Homo sapiens: one gene and its partners. The protein of the gene in region 1 binds, or shares a complex with, the protein of each later gene. Each region holds a gene or a part of one and is shown on either strand. Other genes may lie near its edges.

Evidence for each region.
Region 2: LSM6 (region 1) and PRPF3 share a complex: the UniProt entries of both Homo sapiens proteins name them as parts of the precatalytic spliceosome.
Region 3: LSM6 (region 1) and SNRNP40 share a complex: the UniProt entries of both Homo sapiens proteins name them as parts of the U4/U6-U5 tri-snRNP complex.
Region 4: LSM6 (region 1) and LSM7 share a complex: the UniProt entries of both Homo sapiens proteins name them as parts of the precatalytic spliceosome.

The regions. Positions count from the first base shown.
Region 1 is NC_000004.12:146,171,448-146,178,725, forward strand, and holds the start of LSM6 (U6 snRNA-associated Sm-like protein LSm6), read left to right. Parts: upstream 1-4,270; 5' UTR 4,271-4,364; exon of another isoform or gene 4,365-4,990; intron 4,991-7,278. UniProt on the Homo sapiens protein: Plays a role in pre-mRNA splicing as component of the U4/U6-U5 tri-snRNP complex that is involved in spliceosome assembly, and as component of the precatalytic spliceosome (spliceosome B complex).
Region 2 is NC_000001.11:150,331,520-150,338,544, forward strand, and holds part of PRPF3 (U4/U6 small nuclear ribonucleoprotein Prp3), read left to right. Parts: intron 1-1,164; coding exon 1,165-1,248; intron 1,249-1,459; coding exon 1,460-1,680; intron 1,681-3,415; coding exon 3,416-3,722; intron 3,723-6,640; coding exon 6,641-6,807; intron 6,808-7,025. UniProt on the Homo sapiens protein: Plays a role in pre-mRNA splicing as component of the U4/U6-U5 tri-snRNP complex that is involved in spliceosome assembly, and as component of the precatalytic spliceosome (spliceosome B complex).
Region 3 is NC_000001.11:31,279,765-31,286,789, reverse strand, and holds part of SNRNP40 (U5 small nuclear ribonucleoprotein 40 kDa protein), read left to right. Parts: intron 1-5,293; coding exon 5,294-5,416; intron 5,417-7,025. UniProt on the Homo sapiens protein: Required for pre-mRNA splicing as component of the activated spliceosome. Component of the U5 small nuclear ribonucleoprotein (snRNP) complex and the U4/U6-U5 tri-snRNP complex, building blocks of the spliceosome.
Region 4 is NC_000019.10:2,325,582-2,332,462, forward strand, and holds the start of LSM7 (U6 snRNA-associated Sm-like protein LSm7), read right to left. Parts: upstream 3,006-6,881; 5' UTR 2,986-3,005; coding exon 2,980-2,985; intron 2,897-2,979; coding exon 2,806-2,896; intron 1-2,805. Other genes in the region: SPPL2B (signal peptide peptidase-like 2B isoform 2 precursor), read left to right, coding at 3,129-3,194. UniProt on the Homo sapiens protein: Plays a role in pre-mRNA splicing as component of the U4/U6-U5 tri-snRNP complex that is involved in spliceosome assembly, and as component of the precatalytic spliceosome (spliceosome B complex).

The DNA of each region.
Region 1 (7,278 bases):
TTAATATGGAAATTTTGTGAGCTAGGAAAGAGGATGAACGCTATCACTCTAATTTATGACCTTTCATATAAGGCCAAATGTAAAGGCAACTTCAATTGTTTTATATCTCAGGGCCAGCACATAGCAGATGTATGAAATTTGGAGTGTTAGACATAAACTTTTATTACCAAATTATAAATAATTTCTCCCACTTATAATGTTCACCTTTCAAGTTCATCTTGATTAAAATACAAGGGCAGCTTCACACCGATTTCACTAAATTTTACAGCTGAGAGAGGTTTTCTAGAGTTCACGGTGGAGTATAAAGCATCACAGCATTTGGGAGATTCTCCTTCCAGGAGCTCAGACTCTGATCCTATCTCTTTTAAAATTCAAGTCATGCCAAAATGATGGCTGATGAAGTCCGAACATTATTTAAACATCTCACATGTTACATCTGAAACCAAGCGCCCATGATGTAGAATATATCACTTCCTTGGGTAAGCAAAACGACATACTACTTTTTCTGAGAAATTTGCCCACCAGTCAATGAGCTTGTATCACTTCTTAGAAGGTATTCAACAACCAGAGAGTGTCTGTCTGTTTCCTTATTTTCTTTTTTCCCCTCCCTCCCTCTTTCTTTTCCTTCTTTCTTTTTCTTTCTTTCTTTCTTTCTTTCTTTCTTTCTTTCTTTCTTTCTTTCTTTCTTTCTTTCTTTCTTCTTTCTTTCTTTCTTCCTTCTTTCTTTCTTTCTTTCTTTCTTTCTTTCTTTTTTCCTTCTTCTTTCTTTCTTTCTCTCTTTCTTTCTTCATTTAAGAAACAGTCTCGCTCTATCATCCAGACTGGAGTGCAGTGGCATGATCTCATCTCACTGCAACCTTAGCCTGTCGGGTTCAAGAGATTCTCATGCCTAGCCTCCCAGGTAGCTGGGATTACAGGCATGTGCCACTACACCCAGCTAATTTTTTAATTTTAAGTAGAGACGGGATTCAACATCTTGGCCAGGCTGGTCTTGAACTCCTGACTTCAAGTGATCCGCCAACCTTGGCCTCCTAAAGTGCTGGGATTACAGGTGTGAGCCACTGCCCCCGGCCTCTCTTCATTTTCTATAACAAATAATTTTCATATCCCATGATTAAAGGCAGATAATGGTGGCCCCAAGTATCCAAAACTAGCACATCACAGCTTATGAGCTCCTATTGTACAGTCTGAAGGTCCAGGAAAGGTTCAGGTCCATGCCAGCACTTCATACCAGTTAATGCATTGCTCCAACAAGACCAGCCAGTATTCTTGGAAGCTTAACATCCATGTTACATATTAAAATCTGCTTTGGAGAGTGTTGGTCAATCCAATTACATGTTTGTATTTATCATCATCATCATCATCATCAACAACAACCACAACAACATCACAATACATTCATCTACATGTTCACAGGGCTGTTGGGTGTTTAATAAGCTAGACATGAGACCATCTTTTATGAATATGAAACATTGAAGGACATAGTTATTTAAAGGCATATGTACTATAGAACTGTAGAAGGGACAAACAATGAAGTGGCAAGAGTTCTCTTAGCATTTATATATCTGCATTTGTCTATTTTAAGCATAATAGCTTCAAGAGAATGAAAAGACAAGCCATAAACTGGGAGAAAATATTTGTAAAACACATATCTGATAAAGAACTATTATTCAAAATATACAAAGGACTCTTAAAACTCAACAAAAAGAAAGAACAAACTGATTCAAAATTGGGCCAAAGACCTGAACAACCAAAGATATACATATGGCAAATAAGTATATAGAAAGATCCTCCATATCATATGTCACTAGGGAATTACAACTTTAAACAACTATGAGATAGTCACTAAGCAGCTATTAGACTAGTCAAAATCCAAAGGACTGGAAGCACCAAATGCCCATGAGGATGTGGAACAATGGAAACTCTCATTCACTCCTAGTGGGAATGCAAAATGGTACAGCCACATTGTAAGACAGTTTGGCAGTTTCTTACAAAACTAAACATACCCTTGCTATATGATCTAGCAGTCATACTCCTTGATATTTGCCCAAATAAGCTGAAAACTTATTTCTATACAAAAACCTGCATACACATATTCATAGCAGCTTTATTCATAACTTCCCAAACTTGGAAGCAACCAAGATGTCCTTCTGTAGGTAAATGGATAAATAAACTGTGGTACATCCAAATAATGGAATATTATTCAGAACTTAAAAGAAATGAGTTGTCAAGCCATGAAAAGGCGCAGAGGGGTCTTAAATGCATATTTCTAAGTGAAAGAAGCCAGTCTGAACAGGCTACACAGTGGGGTGGTGCAGTGTATGCACCACTAACTGTGTACGGTATGATTCCAAATATATGATATTGTGGAAAAAGGCAAAACTTTGGAGACAGAAAAAAGATCAGCGGTTGCCAGTGGGGAGGAAGGGATAAATAGGTGGAGCACAGAGAATTTTTAGGGCAGTGAAACTATTCTGTATGATACTGTAATTGTGGGTACATTTCATTATGCATTTGTCAAAACCTATAGAATGTGCAACACCAAGAGTGAACCCTAATGTAAACTTTGGCCTTTGGATGATAATGATGTGTCAGTGTAGGTTCATCAGTCCTAACAACTAAATGAAACTAAACTACATAAGTTAAACTAAAGCTTGCCAAAATATTTTTATGACTTTAAGGCTCCTTAATAAATTAATGTTTACATTCAGGGTTTTGAAGACTAGTATTCACCAAAAGTCTTGCAGTGTTTTCTTTGCATCATAAAAGATGCTGAAAGCAAAAACCTGGGAAATACGGAAAATTGCCTTGTGAGTTAGTAAAAGTCATTTATAAGCTGCTGAGGGGCTTTTGGGAACAGCCACACTTTTTATAAGCTTGTTAGCTCATGAATTAATTCAGGATGCCCACCCCGTGTGTCAAACTGGGCCCTTACCCAGCTACTCCCCTTAGAGAAGGTTGCAGCTGCTCAGCAGATGAACTAGGCCCTTAAAACTCCTCATGGCTCCCTACCCACCACACTAGTGTTAACGGCTCGATTAGGGCTCTGTAGGAAAGGGAAAGAAGTTTGAATCAAAAATTTTCTTTTTTTTTTTAATAATTTAAACAATCAGTAAGGAATGTGCAATTTGATGTCGTTTGCAAAGAAAGTTTTTAGGAACAGGGCTTTTTATCCTATTATGTTTGTTCTTTGCACGTAATTATTTGATTTAAATGGTACTTTTCTTAAAATTTTTATTTACATTGTATTTTATATTGCAAGAACTTCAAATACAGCCCTCACAATAAATCAGTAACTGTTCGGTCTTTATCCAAACTGAACTTTTATAGAAGGATATAAGGAAGTCTCTATTCTTTAACAAATCATATCCAGTTGTTTTCTGTCCCTGATATCAATCAAAAGTTCATTTCTTCTGCCTTTAACCAAAAGAAGTTTACAAGGGAGGAACTCTTTATCTTCGAAAAAAATTTTGCATCTTAGATTTTATAACACCTAATGGGGTTAAGGATCTGTGTTGAAAGATCTTATCACTCTGTGTATAGTGTTACAAATCATAAATATAATTAAAGTATAAGTTTTCAACTGATGAGAGTATATGTGGAGGGGGAAAAACGAATCAAGTCCTGGTGTAACAGTTCTCTTCTTTTTCCCTTTCAATTCCATTAATAGAAAGAGTATTGAGAATTCATGCAAAATTCCAAACCAAGTTCCCATAGTAGCACTGAAATAAGTCTGCACACCATTTCCAATAGGAACTAGTAATGTAACACAATTAATGTCATTATAATTTGGAGTTACTTGAGTGATTTTGATTATTTTTGTATCAATTAACATTGCCATGGAAACAGTCTCTTGCTAAAATGGCTTAAGTCTTCACACATTTAATCAATATCCAGAGGTAGATTTAAAGACTTGAGGTGTTTCATTTATTTATTTATTTGCTTTAAACTATTCAAGGACGTTTCTGGGTACACAATGCCGTTACTTAAACAGTAAATTCCAGTTTCCTATGACTTCAAGTTATTTTTTACACTTCTGTAAATAAATCCTGCCCAAAAGATCACTTCTAGTTTCCTGGAATTTTGTTTTTGTTTTGTATTGTATTTGTTTTGTACTCAGATTTCTGTTAGAGGAACTCCACTGCACCAATTTTGCTACTAGACAAACCAGGAATCTTGGATTTGCGCGCTTTGGTGCTGACAGGCTTTTTCGGCCCCAGCGGGCTGCCGTAGCAGAGAAGAGCACTGATTGGCTGAGGCAGAAAAGTGCCCCTGCCTCGGCGCTTTCGGTTTTGGCTGGGATCATCCGCGGCGGCCGGGCTCGTGGGGCGCCTGGAGTGAGGGTTCTGGTTCCCGCCGGCGAGGTGAGCCGCACCGCTGCGCGGGCCGACGACGGGGCCGGGCGCAGCCCCAGGTTCGGTGCCCCAGTGTTCAGTCGCGCTGTGGAGCGGCGGCTGCAGCGGCCCTAGGCCGGGCGAGGCAGCCCCGGAAAGGGCCTGCGGTGAACAGGCTGGGGCTCCGGGAAGGGACCGCTGGGTGGCGGGTCCCCGCGAAATGCCGCGTCCAAGCTCTCCGCGCATGGAATGGCTGGGAGAGGTCTGATGGTGGGCGCCGGGACCGCCCTCAGCGAGGCGCCTAGACTGCGCGGAGAGGAGCGGCACCGTCCCGGCTCCTACCGAGTTGGCGTCCGAGATCAATTCAGGTTGTTGAAGTTCCCCAGGGAGCCCCGACGCTAATCCCAAGATTCGGCGGGAAAGCGGATCCCGAACCCAGGCCTAGGCTTCGCCTGTCTTCCAGGAGGGCTTCAGGGAATTGCGAACCCTCTCCTACATCGGGGTGGCTGCGCCTGACCACAGGAATTAAAGGCTGGACTCGCCTGTCTTACCAAGTTGTCAGGTCGAGGAACCCGATTGTATGGTCTTAAGTCCTATCGCCCAAGGTTTTCTGTGCGTATGCGTGTCCGCACACCTGCATAGCAGGCATTTTTAAGGTGTGTAGGATTAAGATGATGCGGATTACCCTGCCCCACTGCTCTTAGTAATACGTGACTATTGTAGAAAATTGCAAACATAGAAGACTTTAGTGAAGAAAATAATATTCACTGAACCCTTTCACCTACGATCATTTTCTCTTGTATGTGCTAGCTTCTACTTGAACTAAGAGTGTACATGTTTAATCACTTAACAGTGTAGTTTTCCACTTCCATTTAAAAACTCTTCCTAAATATTATTCTAATTTTGTATCTTCTTTTGATTGTCCTATCATTGTGGGTCCCAGTTTAGGTCCCGTAAATTATTCAGTCATTTCCCGATTGTGGGACATTAGATTGTTTTTGAATTTTTACATCATCTTAGCATCCCAGATAGTGCTTTGATAAACTCTTTTCCCCCTATTTTTTAGATTATTTCCTTGGACTAGATTCTCAGAAGTGAAATTATCAGATTAGATGCTGTCATCTGAAAGGTCTGTTTTAGGCCTTCATACACATTGCTGCAGTGTTTTCCAAAAAAGTTTTAGAGATGTTTGGTAATTTTACTTGCTTAAATATTGTGCAGAAATCTTGAGAGGCTTGTGTTTGTGGTGTGTGTGTGTGTGTGTGTGTCACTGGCGTTAATGCGTTAGACTACCTGAATGTTAGGGCAGGAAGAGACTTAAGTGGTCATCTGGCATAACTCCCTTATATTGCAGATGAGGAACCTGGGGCCATGAGAAGTGAAATTATGAGTTATCCAAGTCACACAGCTAATTAAGTAGCAGAGCTGGGATTAGAACTCAGGTTTCCTGCCTCCCAAGTGAGTACTCTGTGCTGTATCAGGCAGTCTCTCACTGAACTGTGGCATAGTAGATACTAGAATTTAAAAATTTGTTTACATCACCTGGGTTATTCTCTCCTTTTAAAAGTGTACTAACAGATTTTAATCATCGGAGAGACCTGTAACACTGAAAAATTGGAAAGTGATCATTTTCATGGCCAAGACTAGAAATCCATTATTTAGAATGGCAACCCCTTCAAGATTTTGACAGTTGTTTTCAGGTTCCCTATATGTTAGAATAAAACACCCCTGATTAATTATAACCTACACTCCATCATTTGGTTAGAATGTAGCTTTTGGTTATCATTTGCGGTACCTTGGAGATTTCTTTAAAACTCCTCACTTTAAAACCAAAGAACAATTTTTTTTATTTTTATTTATTTTTATTTATTTTTTTATTTAGGGCTTATAGCAGAGATTGTCAACTTCCATTGACATTTTGTGCTGGGCAGTCCTTTGTTGTGGAGGGCCGTCCTGTTAGTTGTAAAATGTTTAGCAACATCCCTGGTCTCTACCCACTAGGATAGCAGTAGCACCACCTTCCTCAGTCATGACAGTTCAGTGTCCCCAGATATTTCCAAGTGTCCCTGAGCAGGGTGGGGCAGGGTTGGGGGTACTGCCCCTAGATGAGAACCATTTGCTTATAGAAATTATCTGGAGAACTTTATAAAATGTAAAATACAGTGCCTTTACCTGAGTAGACTTCGGGAAAATCTGCATTTTAACAAGCATCTCTAGATTTGGAAACAGCTGGTTCTTGAATGACACAAACAGTTGTTTTCTCAGTTTTTGGTGCTCATAATAGAGATTACTTGGTTAGTATTTGTTGAAGTACATGCATGATCCTACTGGTCACTGTATCCATAGTTTGGGCTGATGGGGGCTGGACAGGGATTTTGCTTGGCACTGGCCTTGAATGTCTCTTCCACAGACTTGGGTAGTGTGCTTAGGTACCAGGGACACCAAGTGAGTAAGATATTTTCCCTGTCCCCAAGAAGCTTTAAATTCGCACGGGAGACCAGTCAGCAAATGGAAAAATTACGAAACAGCCTGATAAGGGCCATGACTGAGAGTGGAAAGAGGTGCTCTGAGTGGACTCACTTCGCCTTTGGGAGAGAGGGAGAGAAGTAGCCCCTGCTGCCGAGGAAGGAGGGATTGGTATGAAGCCTTCAAAAGACAGCGAGGAACTCCACTGTGTCCGAAGGGAGGATTTAGAGAGCTGTTCTTCTGCCTATCTGATCGCCTCCTCAGACACTGATCTATTAGTCTAGTGCTGCAATTACTTGGATTGTAATGTTTCCTTGCAATTTTTGCTTTTCAAATTCTTTTCACCCTAAACTGTAAATACGCCAGGAGTAGGTAAAAACTTACAGGTAAACATTGCCAAGAAATAAGGATTTTCATGTCTTCTGCTCAGTGGCATAACTCAAATCACATGAGATAGATTTCTTTGCATCTGTCCATT
Region 2 (7,025 bases), on another chromosome or scaffold:
ACACCCGGCTAATTTTTGTATTTTTACTAGAGACGGTGTTTCACCATGTTAGCCAGGCTGGTCTTCAGCTCCTGACCTCAAGTGATTCGCCCACCTCAGCCTCTCAAAGTGCTGGGATTACAGGCGTGAGCCACCATGCCTGACCCTTCCGTAATTTTTGAATTTTGAATATATCACCTATTCAAGAAAAAATGTTAAAGACAAATGTTTAAAAATATCTTGAAGCAGTTTAAGAACAGGTCTGTTTTGCAAAATGTAAGAGGAGTTGTTTGGCCATACCCTCAAAGCTTATCATTCTGAACTTCTTTAGGACAGAAGGGGTTTATAGAGACTAGGGAGCAGGTCTTTGCACCATCGTCTCTTGTTTCCCAAACTAGTAGTTCAAGTACTAATATCATGATTTTTTAAAAAAAATTAAGTATAGGCTGGGTGCGGTGGCTCACACCTGTAATCCCAGCACTTTGAGAGGCCGAGGTGGGCGGATCACGAGGTCAGGAGATCGAGACCATCCTGGCTAACAGGGTGAAACCCCATCTCTACTAAAAATACAAAAAATTAGCCGGGCGTGGTGGTGGGCGCCTATAGTCCCAGCTACTCGGGATGCTGAGGCAGGAGAATGGCATGAACCCGGGAGGCAGAGCTTGCAGTGAGCCAAGATCGCACCACTGCACTCCAGCCTGAGTGACAGAGCGAGACTCCATCTCAAAAAAAAAAAAGAAAATTAAGTATAATATTTTGTGTAGGTTCTGTTAGGTTTGCATGCATTATTTAAGTGGTTAACACTAGACCTGTAAGGTAGGTACTGTTTTCTTCCCCCTTCTAGACACTTAGGAGGTTTAGAGACTAAGTTCCTTATCCAAGATAACAAAGGCATTAAGTGGCAGAGTTAAGATTCAAACTCAGGTTTCTCTGACTCCAGAGTCTCAATCATCACACTATATTACTACCTAATATGCTAATCTTGCTTTAGGAACATGGGTTGAAAAATTCCAGTGCTCACTTATCTTGACTAAATTTTTTGCACTGTGGTGCAGGCAGAATGTGGTATAGTCATTCAAAACATTTTAAGTGTCTAGACCTGAGAGCCTTGTGGGTTTAAAAACCTGAATGGGAGAAGTAAGAAGGAGAAATTAACAGTTTTTCAATTTTTTTCCTGGAGAGCAGATCAAACAGATGATGGAGGCAGCAACACGACAAATCGAGGAGAGGAAAAAACAGCTGAGCTTCATTAGCCCCCCTACACCTCAGGTATTGTGTCTAGATTACTCTGAACAGAATAATCTTTGGCACAGAATTTCTTGCCATCCACTCAAAATGAGAGACTAGAAGAGGTGACTACATGTTTCACTTCATAATCATCTGCTACAGTCTACCATGATGTGTGTGTATATCTGTGTGTATGTATGTGTGTTTGTCTGCCTGTCTTAATTCCTCTGATTTCTTTTTCTCTATCTCACAGCCAAAGACTCCTTCTTCCTCCCAACCAGAACGACTTCCTATTGGCAACACTATTCAGCCCTCCCAGGCTGCCACTTTCATGAATGATGCCATTGAGAAGGCAAGGAAAGCAGCTGAACTGCAAGCTCGAATCCAAGCCCAGCTGGCACTGAAGCCAGGACTCATCGGCAATGCCAACATGGTGGGCCTGGCTAATCTCCATGCCATGGGCATTGCTCCCCCGTGAGTGTCTATTTCATGGAATACCTTTTCATTTCTGAAGTTTGAGAAGCAATAAATACCTTTGAATGTTACTGATCTGGCTGGGCGCAGTGCCTCAGGCCTGTAATCGTAGCACTTTGGGAGGCTGAGGTAGGTGGATCACCTGAGGTCAGGAGTCAGGAGTTCGAGACCAGCCTGGCCAATATGGTGAAAACCCATCTCTACTAAAAATACAAAAATTAGCCAGGCGTGGTGGTGCATGCCTGTAATCCCAGCTACTCGGGAGGCTGAGGCAGGAGAATCGCTTGAACACAGGAGGCAGAGGTTGCAGTGAGCTGAGATCGTGCCACTGCGTGGGTGACAGAGGGAGACTCCGGCTCAAAGAAAACAACAAACAAAATATTACTGATCCTCTTTTTCCACAGAACCTAGATCATTTCTCACAGTTTCATATTTCTTAGGTGTGATTGATTAACCAGTTGAATTTTTTCTCGTCTTCCCTGTTGGAGGGTTTATTATCTTCTTATGATTTATATAACTGAGATTAAGGTTATTCATCTAATGTTGGAGCTAGGAGTATAGCCAGGTTTCCTTCCTGGTTTCAAACTCAGATTTATCCATTAAACCACATTGTGTGAGACTAGATCTGAGGTTCCTCTGCAACTGGTCAAAGATGTTACATTTTTTTTAGCATCTACAGTTGGTCTGGCATCCCATGAGTGACATAAGAATTCAGGGATAAGGAAAGATAGGATTATAAATTCATATAATTTATAAACTCATTTCATTTGGTTGTCCTGTATACTGAAATATCCACTTTGATATTTTTAATCAAGATACTATTGGCAGGGCGCGGTGGCTCACACCTGTAATCCCAGCACTTTGGGAGGCCGAGACTGGCAGATTGCTTGAGCTCAGGAGTTCAAGACCAGCCTAGGCAACATGGCAAAACCCCATCTCTCTAAAATATACAAAAATTAGCCAGGCATGGTAGAGCATGCGTGTAGTTCCAGCTACTTAGGAGGCTGAGGTGGGAGAATTTCTTTGGGCCTGGGAGGTTGAGGTTGCAATGAGCTGTGATTGTGCCACTGTACTTTAGCCTGGGCAGCAGAGTGAGACCATGTCTCAAAAAAAAAGATGGTATTGCTCACTGATGAGATTGTTCCCTAGAATTATTTTATTGTCCTTTTTGTTGTTGTTGTTGTTGAGAGGGAGTCTCACTCTGTCACCCAGGCTGGAGTGCAGTGATCTCGGCTCCCTGCAACCTCTGCCTCCCAGGTTCAGTAGCTGGGACTACAAGTGCCCGTCTAAATTTTGTATTTTTTGTAGAGATGGGGTTTCACTGTGTTGCCAAGGCTGGTCTTGAACTCCTGGGCTCAAGCCATCCACCCGCCTCAGCCTCCCAAAGTGCTGGGATTACAGTGTGAGCCACCACACCCGTCCATCCAAATAACTCTTATAGAGAAGGCACTGCAGCCTCAACTTCCTGGGCTCAAGTGATCCTCCTCAACCTCCTGAGTAGGTGGGACCACAGGTATATGCCACCGCACCCAGCTAATTTTAAATTTTTTGTTGAGATGCAGTCTCCTTGTGTTGGCCAGACTGGTCTTTAACTCCTGGGCTCAAGTGATCCCTCTGCCTTGGCCTCCCAAAATGCTGTGGTTCCAGGCTTGAGCCACCACGCCTGGCTTTATTTTGTTTTTTGCTTGCCTTAATGTTCCATACAGGATTTATTTCTTTGCGGGCTATTTTTCAGGAAGGTGGAGTTAAAAGACCAAACGAAACCTACACCACTGATCCTGGATGAGCAAGGGCGCACTGTAGATGCAACAGGCAAGGAGATTGAGCTGACACACCGCATGCCTACTCTGAAAGCCAATATTCGTGCTGTGAAGAGGGAACAATTCAAGCAACAACTAAAGGAAAAGCCATCAGAAGACATGGAATCCAATACCTTTTTTGACCCCCGAGTCTCCATTGCCCCTTCCCAGCGCCAGAGACGCACTTTTAAATTCCATGACAAGGGCAAATTTGAGAAGATTGCTCAGCGATTACGGACAAAGGTATCTGGCTTAGAGTATAACACAGAATTTGGAAAAAGTTAAGAAGCTGACAAGAAAACATTGTTAAATCTCTGTGTTCTAGGAAATTAGATAAATAGGTCATTTAAAGCAGCAGTCCTCAACCTTTTTGGCACCAGGGACTTGTTTCATGGAAGATAATTTTTCCCCTGGAGTAAGGATGGTTTCGTGATGGTTCAAGCACATAGCATTTATTGTGTACTTTATTATTATTATTTTTTTCGAGATGGAGTGTCGCTCTTGTTGCCCAGGCTGGAGTGCAATGGGGCGATCTCGGCTTGCTGCAACCTTTGCCTCCCAGGTTCAAGTGATTCTCCTGCCTCAGCCTCCCGAGTAGCTGGGATCACAGGCATGTGCCACCACGCCTGGCTAATTTTGTATTTTTGGTGGAGACGGGGTTTCTCCGTGTTGGTCAGGCTGGTCTCGAACTCCTGACCTCAGGTGATCTGCCCACTTTGTCCTCCCAAAGTGCTGGGATTACAGGCGTGAGCCACCGCCCCCGCCTTTTTTTTTTTTGGGCGGGGAGGGGGATGGAGTCTTGCACTGTTACCTGGGCTGGAGTGCAGTGGTACAGTCTCAGCTCACTGCAACCTCTGCCTCCTGGGTTCAAGCAATTCTCCTGCCTCAGCCTCCTGAGTAGCTGGGACTGCAGGCATGCGCCGCCATGCCTGACGAATTTTTTGTATTTTTAGTAGAGACAGGGTTTCACTATGTTGGCCCGGCTGGTCTTAAACTCCTGACCTTGTGATCTGCCTGCCTTGACCTCCCAAAGTGCTGGGATTATAGGCGTGAGCCACTGTGCTGGCCTATTTCTATTATTATTTTATTGTAATATATGATGAAATAATTATATAACTCACCATAATATAAAATCACTGGGAGCCTTGAGCTTGTTTTCCTGCTGAAATGGTCCCATTTGGGTGTGATGGGAGACAGTGACAGATCATCAGGCATTAGATTCTCATAAGGAATGTGCAACATAGCCCCCTCACATGTACAGTTCACAATAGGGTTCGCGCTCCTCTGAGAATCTCATGCCACCGATGATCTGACAGGAGGTGGAGCTCAGGCCATAATGCAGGTAATAGGGAGCAATCGTAAGTACAGATGAGACTGTTGGCTTGCCTGCTGCTCACCTCCTGTTGTGCAGCCCAGTTCCTAAAAGACTGTTGGGTTGGGGACCCCTGATTTAAAGCAATGAATACTTTGAAAAATGTGCTGGACAAGATGGCTCAAGCCTGTAATCCCAGCGCTTTGGGAGGCCGAGGTGGGTGGATCACGAGGTCAGGAGTTCAAGACCAGCCTGCCCAACATGGTGAAACCCCGTCTCTACTAAAAGTACAAAAATTAACCGAGCGTGGTGGTGGGTGCCTGTAATCCTAGCTACTTGGGAGGCTGAGTCAGGAGAATCACTTGAAACTGGAAGGCAGAGGTTGCAGTGAGCTGAGATCGCACCACTGCACTCCAGCATGGGCAAAAGAGCGAAACTCCGTCTCAAAAAATATATATATATATTTATTAATATAATACATAATTTTTTTAGCAGATTTTACTTCCTAATTCGTTTCTACATAAGTGGAAATATTATGAAATTGAGTTTGAAAATTCTCCACATACAACTAAGTGGAGGGAAACAATTTGAAACATTCTGAGTGACTAAGGAAGGCTTGCCTGTAGTTAAAATTTAATGAGACAGTACACCTGGAGAGTTGAATTGATTGTATATTGAATGACCTTTGCCGCCTTTTTATCCTCTCAAAGTGAGGTTTTCATAAAATTCCTTTTTTTTTTTTTTTTGAGACGGAGTCTCGCTCTGTCACCCAGGCTGCAGTGCAGTGGCACGATCTCAGCTCACTGAAAGCTCCGCCTTCCAGGTTCATGCCATTCTCCTGCCTCAGCCTGCTGAGTAGCTGGGACTATAGGCGCCCGCCACCACGCCCGGCTAATTTTTTTGTATTTTTAGTAGAGACGGGGTTTCACCGTGTTAGCCAGGATGGTCTCGATCTCCTGACCTCATGATCCTCCCGCCTCGGCCTCTCAAAGTGCTGGGATTACAGGCGTGAGCCACCACACCCGGCCATAAAATTCTATTTCTGCGTATTTACTGCAGGCATATACTGTGGAGTGCAGGGAGGGGTTGAAGGTGAGATCTATGTATATGAACTAAATAAAGGATAAAATAAAGCAGAACAACTCCTTTCTAAGCTTTCAGAAATTATGAACTTGTTGCGTTAGGTGTAAAGAGTTCAACGGGGAAGTGTTTTAAAATTTGGGATTCTTGGCCGAGGTGGGCGAATCACTAGGTCAGGAGATCGAGACCATCCTGGCTAACATGGTGAAACCACTTCTCTACTAAAAATACAAAAAAATGAGCCGGGCGTGGTGATGGGCGCCTGTAGTCCCAGCTACTCGGGAGGCTGAGTCAGGAGAATGGCGTGAACCCGGGAGGTGGAGCTTACACTGCACTGCACTGCAGCCTGGGTGACAGAGTGAGACTCCGTCTACAAAAAAAAAAAAAAATATTTGGGATTCTGGCCGGGCACAGTGGCTCATGCCTGTAATCCCATCACTTTGGGAGGCCGAGGCGGGCAGATCACCTGAGGTCGGGAGTTTGAGACCAGGCTGAGCAACGTGGAGAAACCCCATCTCTACTAAAAATACAAAATTAGCTGAGGGTGGTGGCACATGCCTGTAATCCCAGCTACTGAGGAGGCTTAGGCAGGAGAATCGCTTAAACCTGGAAGGTAGAGGTTGCTGTTAGCCAAGACCATGCCATTGCACTCCAGCCTGGGCAAGAAGAACGAAACTCCGTCTCAAAAAAAAAAAAAAATTGAGATTCTACACATTCTGTTTTCTATGACTCCAATTTATCTTTCTGTCTTGGATTATCTTGTTTTTAGGCTCAACTGGAGAAGCTACAGGCAGAGATTTCACAAGCAGCTCGAAAAACAGGCATCCATACTTCGACTAGGCTTGCCCTCATTGCTCCTAAGAAGGAGCTAAAGGAAGGAGATATTCCTGAAATTGAGTGGTGGGACTCTTACATAATCCCCAATGGCTTTGATCTGTGAGTTTGTTTTAGTACCTTTTTAAAAAAACAGTTTTTAATCAGCTGAGTTTAAGACTCAAGTTAATACCTTTTAGTAAAGCTATGGTTTTAGTGGGAAGGATGGTACTCATTCATTAATTAAAATTTTTAAATCCAAGAGAGATAAGTAACTGTACACAAGGTCCTGTTATTTTTTTTTTTTTTTTTTTTGAGAGGGAGTCTCGCTCTGTCACCCA
Region 3 (7,025 bases), on another chromosome or scaffold:
TGGGCAGGGCAGTACATTGTAGGGAGTAGTCAGAGAGTGAGGAAGGCATCCATACAACACAGGGTAGGTAACCAGTGTGGGGAATTTGAGGGTGAGGGAGGGGCAGCAGCCCAACAGTGCCCTAATGGGGTGAAAGGGTCGCCTGTACGTGAAGCAGTACGGGGAGAATGTGGATGTCAAAGCCTGAACTGAGGGCATCCACACAGGGTAGAAATGATTTGGTGTAGGGAGTCTGAGACTGAGCAAGATGATGACTGCATGCTTGGAGAAGTGCAGACTGGAAAAGAGCCGTAGCAGAGTGATGAGGGTGTTCACACAGAGGAATGACCCAAGTTGGTTAAGGAAGAGTCACACATGGCTTCAACCAAGAATGGGAATCACAATTCAAGTAGGGAAGGGTGGAAGAGAATATGGGAAACTGGTTGCATGCAGGAAGCATAATCAAATAAGTGAATATATTGAATTTAATGGGAGGCTGATTTCTCTGTCCAAGAACAGAGTTACCAGTACAAAAGAGAAGACTAAAATGAATCTTGTGTGAGGTATAAGTGTGAACTCACAATATTCAATATAGAAACATATAGAAAAAAATAGACATAAATGTGTGAGTGTGTGTGTGTGTGTACCTAAATGTACATATATTGCCTGACTGTCCACTGAAAAGGTTTAGGAGCAACAAGACCCCAATAGCAATAGCACCCCTTACTGCACAGGTACTGTTTTCCATTAAAAGGAACCAGGGCTCCTATTTCAGCCCAGGGGCAGTGAAAGTACAAGATAAGCCTTGTACTTGTCAAGGCTTATTTTGTCAAAAGAACATCCTAACTAAATTATCAAATCGACCTAATTAGTAATGGGACAAGACAAAATCATGAACCATTTGCTAGGATACAACAAAGATGCAGCATCATTTCTGTGATATTCCTACCAAAGATGTATAACTTAAATCTAATCAAGAGGAAACATAAGACAAACCTAAATTGGGGATGATGACCTGTAACTTTCAGAAGTGTTGAGTTCATAAAACTCAAGGAAAGTTTGAGAGAGTCTTGCAGACTGGAGTCTAAATTTAACATATGATTCCAGACTGAATCCTTGTGCAATAAGACATTTGGGATAACTGGTAAAACTTGAGTGGGATTTGAGGATAAAATGGTGATAGTGTATCTGTATTTCTTGATTTTGATGGTTATGTTGAGATGATGTAGGAGAACATCTTTGTAGGACAGACACTATTTAGGAGTGATAAGGGGCCAGGTGCAGTGGCTTATGCCTGTAATCCTAGCACTTTGGGAGGCCTAGGCAGGTGGATCACTTGAGGTCGGGAGTTTGAAACCAGCCTGGCCAACTTGAAGAAACCCTGTCTCTACTAAAAATACAAAAAAGCCGGGCATGGTGGCAGATGCCTGTAATACCAGCTACTCAGGAGGCTGAGGAAGAATTGCTTGAACCCGGGAGGTGGAGGTTGCAGTGAGCGGAGATCACGCCACTGCACTCCAGAATGAGCAACAGACAGAGTGAGACTCCCATCTCAAAAAAAAAAAAAAGGTGATAAGGCATTGGGTAAGCAACTTACTCTCAAATGATTTAGACCAAAAAAAGTGTTCTTTTTACTTCCAAGTTTTCTATAAATTTATGATTGCTTCAAAGTAAAATAATTATTAAAAGTGGTAGTTATCTGGAACTAAAATTCTAAATTATTTTAAACAAACTTTGACTACCATGACTTTTAGGAGAAAGACAAAGATAGATTTGACCTGAGTGAAGTATCTATTGAGACAAAGATTATAGTACAGTTTATAAAATATATAGGATCTAAATTATTAAGGCCTTGAATTCCAGGTTAAGAAGTTTGGACTTGATTCTGTAACCACAGGAGTTGGGGGAGTAGGAGATGTTGGGCATGTAGGAGAGGAGTGAAGCGTTCTTTTTAGACCATTTATCTGAGTAATGAACTAATTTTTAGTTCGTATTTACATGAACAAAGAAGAAACTACTTTTCATCCTAAACCATGAGAATTGGGAGGAAGAGGCATCTTGGCACAGATCCTACTCAGACTCTCCTTGTTGACTACAGGATTGAAGTTAAGCCTATGACCTTCCCTAAAGTTCCATGGCTGATTCCTTTCTTTTTGATGCCAGCCCTTTAAAACTTGGAACAGTCATCCCAAAGTCTCTTTCTTCTGAATGAAACGACCCATACTTTTAAATCATTTACTTGTGGTTCATCTTCTCAAGTGTGTCATTCATTTATTGAAACATCTCTGAGCCCTCTCTGTGTTATCCACGCTTTAAAAAAGTAGAGCTATAAGGGTTTGTTTGTTTAAGAGATGGGGTCTTGGCCGGGTGCAGTGGCTCACGCCTGTAATCCCACCACTTTGGGAGGCCAAGGTGGGTGGATCACCTGAGGTCAGGAGTTCGAGACCAGCCTGGCCAACATGGTGAAACCCCCGTCTCTTCTAAAAATAGAAAAATTAGCTGGGCGTGGTGGCGCATGCCTGTAATCCCAGCTATCCAGGAGGCTAAAGCAGGAGAATTGCTGGAACACGGAAGCAGAGGTTGCAGTGAGCCGAGATGCCGCCACTCTCACCCAGGCTGGAGTACAGATCCGCAATCACGGCTCACTGCAGCCTCAACCTCTCTGGCCCAAGCGATCCTCCCATCTCAGCCTCCCAAGTAGCTGGGACTATAGGCATATACCACCACACCCAACTTTTTGTTTTTATTTTGTAGAGATGAGGAATCACCATGTTGCTCAGGCTGGTCGCTAACTCTGGGCTAAAGCCATCCTCCTGGCCTCGGCCTCCGAAAGTGCTGGGGTTACAGGCATGAGCCACCATACCTGGCCCTCTAAGAATTTTATAGTTTTAGCTCTTACATTTAGGTCCTTGATCCATGTTGAATTAATTTTTGTGTATCATGTTAGGCAGGGGCTTACCTTCATTCTTTGGCATGTGGTTAGCCAGTTGTCTTAGCACAATTTGTTGAGAAGACTACTTTTTCCTTCTATATGGACCATAGTTACTTGCTTCTTTGCATGCCTTATATTTTGTTGAAAACTAGGCATTTAAATATTATAGCGTGGTGACTCTGGAAATTAGGTCCCCAGAGCTGCTTATTGTAGTTGTTTGTTTAGTGACTTTCTGTGGGTTGGGGTAAGGTGAGAGTGGTTGGTTGGTTGGTTTTTGAGACGAAGTCTCGCTCTGTAGCCCAGGCTGGAGTGCAGTAGTGCGATCTTGGCTCACTGCAACCTCCACTCCCCGGGTTCAAGTGATTCTTGCACCTCAGCTTCCTGAGTAGCTGGGGTTACAGGGGCACACCACCATGACCAGCTAATTTTTGTATTTTTAGTAGAAACAAGGTTTTACCATGTTAGCCACGCTGGTCTTGAACTCCTGACCTCAAGTGATCCATCCACCTCGGCCTCCCAAAATGCTGGGATTACAGGTGTAAGCCACCATGCCCGGCCTGTTTAGTGAATTTTTGAACTAATTTTGTAAAGTTTGTATTCTTTGTCCTGTGTGACCACTGAATTCTTTTTTTCGTTAGCTTAGTGGTCAGCTAGTGAATGACACAAGTTTCCTAAATTACCTACAACAACAAGAACAAAAATTCTCCCAGTCTTTGCAGATTGTCTTTTTGTATGTTGGAGCCTGCCTTCAACTCCTTGCCATGCAGTTTACATCTCTCCTTAGCTTTCACTTCCTGCTTGTGCAGAGCCTGAAGGTGAACCAGAGAGCTTACGGCCTTCTCAGATCTTTTCTAAGTATGTGCCCAGCCCTGGACATGCAAGTGGTCTAGATTGCCAGGAATGGGCCAGGCGTGGTGGCTCATGCCTGTAATCTTAGCACTTTGGGAGGGTGAGGCAGACAGATCACTTGAGGCCAGGAGTTTGAGACCAGCCTGGTCAACGTGGCGAAACCCTGTCTCTACTAAAAATACAAAAATTAGCTGGGCATAGTGGCACACGCCTGTAATCCCACCTACTCGGGAGGCTGAGACATGAGAATTGCTTGAGCCCGTGAGGTGGAGGTTGCAGTGAGCCAAGATCGCACCACCGCACTCCGGCCTGGGTGACAGAGGGAGAGTCTGTCCCTAGATAGATAGATAGATAGAGATTAGATAGATAGATAGACACATAGATACATAGATAGATAGATATAGATGATAGAAAGATAGATAGATAGATAGATAGATAGATAGATAGATAGATAGATAGATAGATAGATAGCCTAGGCGACAGAGGGAGAGTGTGTCCCCAGATTAGATAGATAGATAGATAGATAGATAGATAGATAGATAGATACATAGATAGATAGATAGCCAGGAATATGTCGGTGCTTTTCGAAGCTCTTATTCCCCAAATTGTCTCCTTCCCCAGCCCTTCCTCCCAAGGTTTTTGGTTTGTATTTTTGCCCCAACTGTTTTTCCTTGCCCCCAGGAACCAGAGGCTAATAATGTCCTTTCCTTTAAATGTTTTCAAGGGAAGTTCCAAGTTAGGCAAAATAAATGTAAGTCCTTTGGGCTCATCCTTCAGAGAGCCACCAGACAGGTAAAAATAAACAATTTTTATTGTTTATTCTTTGACAATAAGAAATAGGCCCCCTTTGCTTCCTCAGTACTAGGAAACCATACTGGGAATATGGGTTATCTTCAAAGCTGTTGCTGAGCAGGAGACAGAGCCAGCACAAGTTAAAACACTACAAAGCCCTTTTACTGGGACTCAGGGAGTTTTTTGTTTCCTTTTTCCTCATTAAGGGTTTGCCGGGTTACTATAAACTTTTGATTAGTTTTGAGAGTTCCAACAGTTGATTCTGACAGATTTTGCTGGTTAATTTGCTGCTTTCGTGGAGGGACAAGCTTTTGTCATTGTTTATTATACTATTTTCACTGACATACCCTCTATTTTTTTAAATGTGGGTTGCAGCCTACTAATGAATTAGTCTCTACGGTTTGAAAAAATTGTCTGATATCCTTGTTGTTCTAAAAAATATATGAACTAAGTAGTTAGGGGAATTCCATTCTAAGAGTATGTTGATTTAACTCTGTTCACTTCAACAAAGAAGTCTGAAAATATAACCGAAGTTTTGTTTCACCAGCCTTCAAATGTCTTGGCAAAATTGAGCACACTGCTTACCATGTGTGTTATTAGGATATCCAGGAGTTAGTGATATAGGATCCCAATTATAGATGTGTTCATGTCCACAAAGTCCTCGTACTTAAGGGATATTTGTACTGTGCAATTGCTTCTTAGAATGATGTTGCTGATAGACTGTCTTGTCCTTTGCTTCAGCTTTGGGACATCCGGAAGAAAGCAGCCATCCAGACATTTCAGAACACGTACCAGGTGTTAGCTGTGACCTTCAATGACACAAGTGATCAGATTATTTCTGGTGGAATAGACAATGATATCAAGGTATGTTTGATGTTTATGATATATTTCCATTTCATCTATCTGCACTTAGAAACGAATTTTTTCAAACTTCTGAGATTGTGGTAGCTTTGCACTTAATACCAACTGAAAGGAAAATAGTAACTTGGAACTTATTTTCTTTTTCTCCTGTCTTCATTGACTTCCTAAATTAAAGTTTGCATTGCAGATCTTATAAATGCTGTCAGGGACCAGGCACTTAATGTGAAGTGTGAAGTCTCTGTAGGGGGACTATGTAAAAAATAAAGAGTGCATTTCCTTTTAAAGACATTCAAAATCTTTTTTTAACCATCTTGGTTTAAAGAGAGCAGTGAATCAGTTTGTGATTCTGTATCCTCATCTCTCACTGTGTTTTTCTTTTTGACACTATGGAAAGAGAGTTTTCTAAGTTTCTCTAAGAATGAGAGAAGGTAATGATATTAAAGAGGCAATAGACCATATGGCAGTAGAGTGTAGCTCAAACTTTCAAGTAATTGACTTGGGTTCTAATCCCAGTTTCACCATTTTCTAGTTTTGTGACTTCAAGCACCTTCTTTAAGCCTCTTTTTCTTGTGTGAATGGTGAGGGGGTAATGATAAAAAAAAAAAAAAACAGTAGCATCTACCACATACCATTGTGGGGATTAAATGAGCCTGATTCATTAGAGCACTTAGCAGAATTCCTGGACATAACAAGTGCCAGGAAATGTATTATTTTGGGCCTGCACAGCTTCTGTCTTCCTTTCCTCTTGGCTTCCTTGGGGATCTTAACGACTTTGACCTTACCTTCTGCTTTATAGTAAGAAGAGTAACTGTCAGATACTCAACTTTCTGTGTTGTCCTTACCTAGAAGTTGTACTGTATTTCCATCCCTCATTGTTTCCTTTGCTGTTACTTTGGATGAAATATCCTTGCTTTTGGCCAGGTGTGGTGGCTCACACCTGAAATCCCTGCACTTTGGGAGGCCGAGGCGGGTGGATCACAAGGTCAGGAGACCGAGACCGTCCTGGCCAATGTGGTGAAACCTCGTCTCTACTGAAAATACAAAAATTAGCTGGATGTGATGGTGGTGTGCCTGTAATCCCAGCTACTCAGGAGGCTAAGGCAGGAGATTACTTGAACCTGGGAGTCAGAAGTTGCGGTGAGCTGAGATCACGCCACTGCACTCCAGCCTGGCCACGGAGCAAGACTCCATCTCCAAAAAAAAAAAGAAAGGAATATCCTTGCTTTTGTCTAAAGGTAGTCCTTTTTTTTTTTTTTTTTTTTTGAGTCAGAGTCTTCCTCTGTAGCCCAGGCTGGAGTGCAGTGGTGCTATCTCAGCTCACTGCAACCTCTGCCTCCTGGGTCCCAGTTCAAGCAATTCTCCTGCCTCAGCCTCCTGAGTAGCTGGGATTACAGGCACGTGCCACCATGCCCAGCTAATTTTTGTATTTTTTAGTAGAGACAGGGTTTCACCATGTTGGGCAGGCTTATCTCGAACTCCTGACCTTGTGATCCACCTGCCTCGGCCTCCCAAAGTGCTGGGATTACGGGTGTGAGCCACCGTGCCCGGCCTAAAGGTAGTCCTTTAAATGTGAGGGTTTCAATCCTTCGTCACTTCTTTCAACCTCTTCTTT
Region 4 (6,881 bases), on another chromosome or scaffold:
TGTCTCCTCCCAAGGCAGGGCCGAGAGCCCGTCCACGGCTGCTCCACACACACCGAGGGCCGCCCTGTGCGGTGGTGCGGGGGAGGGTCTGCAAACTACGACCCCCAGGTGAACCTGCCCGCCGCTCCTCTCTGTAAGTCAGAGTCTCGCTGGCCCACCACCACACTCGCCCGCTCAGGCGCTGACCAGGGTGGCTCTCCTGCTCTGCTGGCATAGCTCAGTGGTTGTGACAGAGACCATCTGGGCTGCAAAGCTAAAGATATTTGCCGTCTGGCCTTCTACAGAGAAGGTCTGCCCGCCTGCATACAAGCTTCCGTCCACCTCCACAGGCTTCAGCTTCCACCTCCACGGCTCCCTCTCTCTTTGCTCAAGTCCCTCCCCTGCAAAATGAAACTCACCTATAAGATGGGGTCAGATGCAGATGTTCAGGTCCTTGGCACCAGCCTGACCAGTGAGCCCGCCCTCCTCACGGGGAGAGATGTGAGCACTGAGGTAGGTAGGTCTCTAACATGGAGCCAAGGTGCCCCTCCTCTGGAGTGTGGGCTAGGGCCTGTGACTCTGACGGGACAAGATGTCACTCCTGCGCTTAGGTTATGTGGCAAAGACAAGGAACTTTGCAGCTGTAATTAGAGCCCCTGAATCAGCTGACTGAGCCAATCAAGAGAGAAACACCCTGGGTGGGCCTGACTGCATCAGGTGAGCCCTTCAGGGACCAAACCCTTTCTGCTTTTTGTGTGTGTGTGTGTGTGTGTGTGTGTGTGTGTGTGTGTGTGTGTTTGAGATGGAGTCTTGCTCTGTCGCCCAGGCTGGAATGCAGTGGCGCGATCTCAGCTCACTGCAACCTCTGCCTCCAGGGCGATTCTCCTGCCTCAGCCTCCCAAGTAGCTGGGACTACAGGCATGCGCCACCATGCCCAAATAATTTTTGTATTTTTAGTAGAGATGGGGCCTTGCCATGTAGGCCAGGCTGGTCTCAAACTCCTGAACTCAAGTGATCTGCCCGCCTCAGCCTCCCAAAGTGCTGGGATTACAGGCGTGAGCCACAGCGCCCAGTTAATTGTTGTACTTTTAGTAGAGATGGGGTTTCGCCATGTTGGCCAGGCTGGTCTCGAACTCCTGACCTCAGGTGATCCACCTGCCTTAGCCTCCCAGACTGCTGGGATTAAGGCGTGAGCCCCCGCACCCGGCCCCAAACCCTTTCTGAAAGATGATTCTCCCACTGGCCCGAATAACTGAATATGGACAAATGTCAGCTCAGCCTGCAGCACTGTAGGGGCAGACCACCACGGTGGAACAGAGTCCCGAGCTGGCAGCGTCCGGGAGCTGCAAGTGTCCCTAGCCAACACTGGCCAGAACGGGGACCCTGGCCCTGCAAAGGTAAGGCACTGAGCTCTGTCAATAACCAGTGGGCTCAGAAGAAGACCCCAAGATGATGGACCCCAAAAAACAACCCTCAGTTACAACCTCCTGAGAGCCCTTGAGGCTGTGGTACCCTGGCTCCTGACTCACAGATCCTGTGAGATAATAAAATGGTGCTGTTTCAGCTGCTAAATGGGTGATTTGCTATGAAGGGCAGAAAACAAAGGGAAGCAGTGTGACCAGCAAGAGCGGCCGCTCACTCATGTCCTTCCATGTCCGGAGTCAGCATGGTGTAGACTGAGAAAACATTTTATTCATATTCCTTTTTCTTTTTGTTTTGAGACGGAGTCTTGCCCTATCGCCAGGCTGGAGTGCGGTGGCACAATCTCGCCTCTGGGGTTCAAGCAATTCTCCTGCCTCAGCCCCCCGAGTAGCTGGGACTACAAGCGTGCGCCACCATGCCCAGCTAACTTTTTGTATTTTAGTAGAGACAGGGTTTCACCACGTAGGCCAGGATGGTCTTGATCTCCTGACCTCCTGATCTGCCTGCCTCGGCCTCCCAAAGTGTCAAGATTAAAGGCATGAGCCACTGTGCCTGGCCTCCTTTTTCTCTTTTGAGACTGGGCCTTGCTCTGTGGCCCAGGCTGGAGTGCAGTGGTGCGGTCATAGCTCACTGCAGCCTCAAACCCTAGGGTGAAGCCACCCTCCTGCTTCAGACTCCCAAATTGCTGGGATTACACACGTGAGCCGCCCCGTCCGGCTGGGGCACTGTGATTTTTAATAACTCTCATGCCACCCAGTTGTCTACAATCCAGGGACAAAGAGGTTTGGGTCCCCGTCTTACAAAAAAAAGAAACCAAAGATCCAAGAGGCTATTGAATAAGTGACGTGTTGTCTGACTGCTTACTTCCTGCTGAGAGCTGCCTCAATTACATTACATGCCTGTAACCATTCATTCTCACCACCCCCTGTGAAGTGGGTGGAGTTACCAGCCCCATTTGACAAATGAGGAAACGGAGGCTAGGAGAAGGCAGCTCACTTGCCCAGTCAAAAATGCTAGGCTGGGCATGGTGGCTCATGCCTGAAATCCCAGCAATTTAGGGGGCTGAGGCAGGCAGATCGCTTGAGGCCAGGAGTTTGAGACCATCCTGGCCAACATGGCCTCTCTACTAAAAATACAAATATTAGCCGGGCGTGGTGGTACACATTAATTCCAGCTACTCGGGAGGCTGAGGCACAAGAATCACTTGAACCTGGGAGGCGGAGGTTGCAGTGAGCTGAGATCGCACCACTGCACTCCAGCCCGGGTGACAGAGCGAGACTGCGTCTCAAAAAAAATAATGAAAATAAATAAAAGAGGTGCTTCCGCATGCGTCCTCATCATCTCTGTTGCTGGGTTTATTTGAAATTTTTAAAGAGGGGGTACCGACAGCGGGAGCCTCCTCACCTTCGCGGCCTCCCTGGAACTTTACCCGGATCGTCTTGTCGATGTACTTGGACAAGTCCAAGATGCTCTCCTTTTTCTTCTTCTCCTTATCCTGCGGGGAAAGCAGAGCGCATGAGACCTGGAGCGCGGCCCGAGCTCCACGCCCCCCGGCTCCAGATTCCGCCGCGCGCTCACCGCCATCTTGTCGCGCCGTGTGGCTCTTCGCAGGCACCGCCCCGCGCCCTTTGACCTCCCCCACGCGCATGCGCGGCGCATGCGTGGCCCGGGGTCTCGGGGCGTTGCTGGGAAACATCTGCCGTTGGTTGCGGCGGGCACCGGCCGACATGGCGGCAGCGGTGGCGGCTGCGCTGGCGCGGCTTTTGGCGGCCTTTCTGCTCCTCGCGGCCCAGGTGAGCGCGGCACCGGTCCCGACGGCACCGCGGGCTGCGGCCCTTCGGCCTCTCTGTCCCCGGGCTACGCGCAGGAACGACCCCGCTCGGCCCGTCTTGGGGGTCCAGCCTCGGGGATCCGCCGTCCCCGCGTTGTCGGCCGGCGGTGCCGGGGCTCGGCCGTGACCTTGCGGGTCTGTCCCCGGCTCCTCTCCTTTCCCCGCCTCGGAGGCCCTCCGCCGCTGCAGCGCCACTCACTTCCCACCGGGTCTGAAATTTGTGCCCCCTCCATCCTCCGGTTCTGCTTCTCCGTTTCGGGGTCTCCAGTTGCCGCCGGGGACGCCTCTCTCCGGCTCTGTGGCCTTGAGCAGGCGGCTGCCCACCCCTCTCCGAGCCTCAGTTTCCCCTTAGGCGGAACGGGCACGGTGCTAAGCTAACCTCACCCTAGGGGGTGCGGTGGGGGAACCCAGAGGCGTCCCGCGCGTCCCCCAGTAACTGGCAGCATCCTGGAGCGGCCAGGAGTCCAGCCCTGCACTGGGGTCGGATCCCCGCTCCATCTTTTACTCCGTGACCTTGGACGATGGAATTCGTGTGCAGAAGGAGGACCGACTATGGTGTGGATTCTGGAGGTTCTGTCCAGGGTGACCAGCGCCCAGGGCCAACAGGCCTTCATTATGTTCATTGTGTGTCATTTGATGTAAAGAGTGTCAGGTTCTAGTGGGGACAGTCTACGAGATCGCACTGTCATAACTGCATCTTTTATTTTCTTAATTCCAAATCTTCCCTCTCTCCTGAGTTCGGTGGCTCAGGCAATGGAACCTGGAGCAGCCCCACAAATGCAGCCCTTAACCTTCACTACCCCCTCAGAGTTCTCACTCTTAAGGCGTCGCCGCCACCTGGCTCCTCAGTCTCCACTCCTCCAGCCCCACCGCTATCCCTCTGCTGTGGCTGCCTTTGTCCACCACATCCCCAGTCCATCCTCGACACAGCAGGGGTGACCCTTTCAAAGTATGTCAGACCGTGTCGCATCCAGATGAGTGCGCCGTCCAGTTGTGACCTGGCTGCTGGGGAAGCCTGCAGCTCATTGCAGTCGCTTCACTCTCTAGTCTTTTCTCTTACCCTGAGATGCCCCTGGTCTCTGCAAGGCTGTCGGGCCCCCTCGGAAGCTTTCTGAGAACCCCAGTCCTACCCCCAGCTGCTCTGTCAGCCCCCTTTGGACTCCCCCCATTCTGCAGCCAGGCACCTAGAGCTCCCCAGACATTTGGAAGGAGGGGGAAAGCCAGAGGTGGAAGAAAGATCACAGAACTCTGTGGAGAGAGGGACTCAGTTTGCCTGGGAAGGCTTTTCCGAAGCAGATCTATTTTTTTTTTTTGAGACGGAGTCTCGCTCTGTCGCCCAGGCTGGAGTGCAGTGGCATGATCTAGGCTCACTGCAACCTCTGCCTCCCGGTTCAAGCAATTCTCCCACCTCAGCCTCCCGAATAGCTGGGATTACAGGTGCATGCCACCACTCCTGGCTAAATTTTTTTTTTTTTTTTTTTAGTAGAGACGAGGTTTCACCATGTTGGTCAGGCTGGTCTCGAACTTCAGACCTCAGGTGATCCACCTGCTTCGGCCACCCAAAGTGCTGGGATGACAGGCGTGAGCCACCGTGCCCGGCCCCGAGGCAGGTGTTCTGAATGATGAGTAGGAGTTTGCCGGGTCGGCAGGAGGGGAAGGGTGTTGGAAGCACCAGAAGCAGCATAAGCGGGGGCTGGGAGGTGTGAGAGCTGGCAGGTTATTTGGGGTTGGCAAGGGGTGGGCTGTGGCTGGAGTGTAGGGTGGAATAATGCTGGAAGGAAGGGTTTACACCCTGAAAGATGTCACCACCAAGGAGGCCCGGGGGGTGGGCCGTGGAGGGTTGCTGGAGCAGGGGCACAGAGGAGGGGGCAGTGGTGCGAGTGGCCCCAGGCAGAGAGTGAAGGCAGAGCATTCAGCCTCCTAGTCTGGATGACAGGTTGTCTGGTGGAAGCCAGGCCGTGGAAGGCGCTTGGTGCTGGGGTGCGTGGACTTTAACCTGGGCGGGCTGAGGAGTGTGAGCTTTATCCGGAGGGTGGGGAGTCAAAGGATGTGTCAGAGGGACGTGAGAGAGCAGGTGTTCCTGCCCCTTCCAGAACCCTGGTTGTAAATACACCCTGAGACGCCTGTCCCTGGAGGGGGGCAGTGCTTCGCGGCAGTGGAAATTTGAGTCCGATTGCCCAAGAATGAGACTTGCTCTCAGGGCAGGAGCCTGGTTGGTGACAGTCCTCAACTCGCTTGCTTGCTACCATTCTGTGACCCTGAGCAAGGAAGTCGACCTCCCCAGTGAGACACCTCCCTTCCCCCACCCCACGGAGCCCGCTCCTCAGCAGATCTGAGCTGGAGCTGGTGGCCCTGGCTGGACCCGGCCCGGCTCCTGGAACTCCTCAGTCTTCCCAGAAGGGAGGCTCTCCCCGCCTGGACTCACTGGCCTGTTTCAAAGGCCCTTGATGTGGATGCTTTCACAGTCACTTGGAAGCGGGGTTTCTAAGCCTAGTAGTTTCTGAACCTGTGTGCGGTTGCAAAGCGTTTGTGCTGCAATTGTGAAGGATTTGGAGGTCGAGGCTTGGGCTTTGAGCCTGTCCTTGTAGCCTGAGCTTTTTCTGCTCCTCCAAATTTCGGTGGGCCTGTCTAGAACTCAGGGCCCTCTTAGAGCTGTGGCCTTTGGAAGAATTGTTCCCCGTTCCTTTAACTCAGCAGGTGAGGAAACTCTTCCCGGTGAGATGCCGCGTTCTCTGGCCTTTGATAGAGGCACAGGCTTGTTTTTTTAATGGAAAACCAGTTTTGCGAATTGTGGAGAGGAAAATGCATGAATGTGCTTTTGTGCTTTTAAATGACCCTTTTAGAGAGAAGCAGAGAAGCAGTTCTATCAGTTCCCATTTTACACAAAAGACACTTTTCACCAGAGTCCCTGATCCCATAGAACAGAGCTTGGCAAGTGTTTTCTGGGAAGGGCTAGACAGTAGTTTTGCTGGGCTCTGTGGCCCACGTGGCCTCTGGTTTGGTTGCTTGGTTTCTCCTGTTGTTCTTCCAGAGCCGGAGACCCTTCCTTAGGAATGGGCTTGGCTGTGTTCCAATAAAACTTTATTTACAAACACAGAAGGTGGGCCGGACTGTGGATTCTTGGCCTCTGCCGTGACCCATAACATCCCTCCTGGAGGAGGGGTTCTGGGGGGCTGTGTTGGAAGGGGCACCCTCCGGGCTCGGCACCGGGGCCAGACTAAGGGGTGCTCTCACGGGCAGGCAGTCTGGTGGGCAGAACTGGAAAGAAAGGGCTCCTGACTCTGCCTGGGCTCTGGGGGAGGTCACATGGGAGGTGCTTGGAGTGGGGCTGGGGCAGCTGTGGGAAGGAAGCAGCATTAGCCAAGAGCTATGAGACCCCCAGTCGATTGTGGGGACCGGGGCTCCGTGGGCTTTCACCATGCTGCCACCCCGAGGTCACCAGGGCCTTGACCCAGATGCTCCCAGACCAGGCCGGAGACTTTGCATGATTTCAGTGATGAGGGCCCGGCTGTTGGAGAGCCCGTCTGTGCCTGTGTGCTGGGGTTGGTGTCTGGCACCAGGGACCTTTGGGACCTTTAGCCAAGCCAGAGCTGTCCTTCCCCAGTCCTAGCTTGGCAGAGCTGCGTCTGCACTGTTTTCCCTTGTGGCG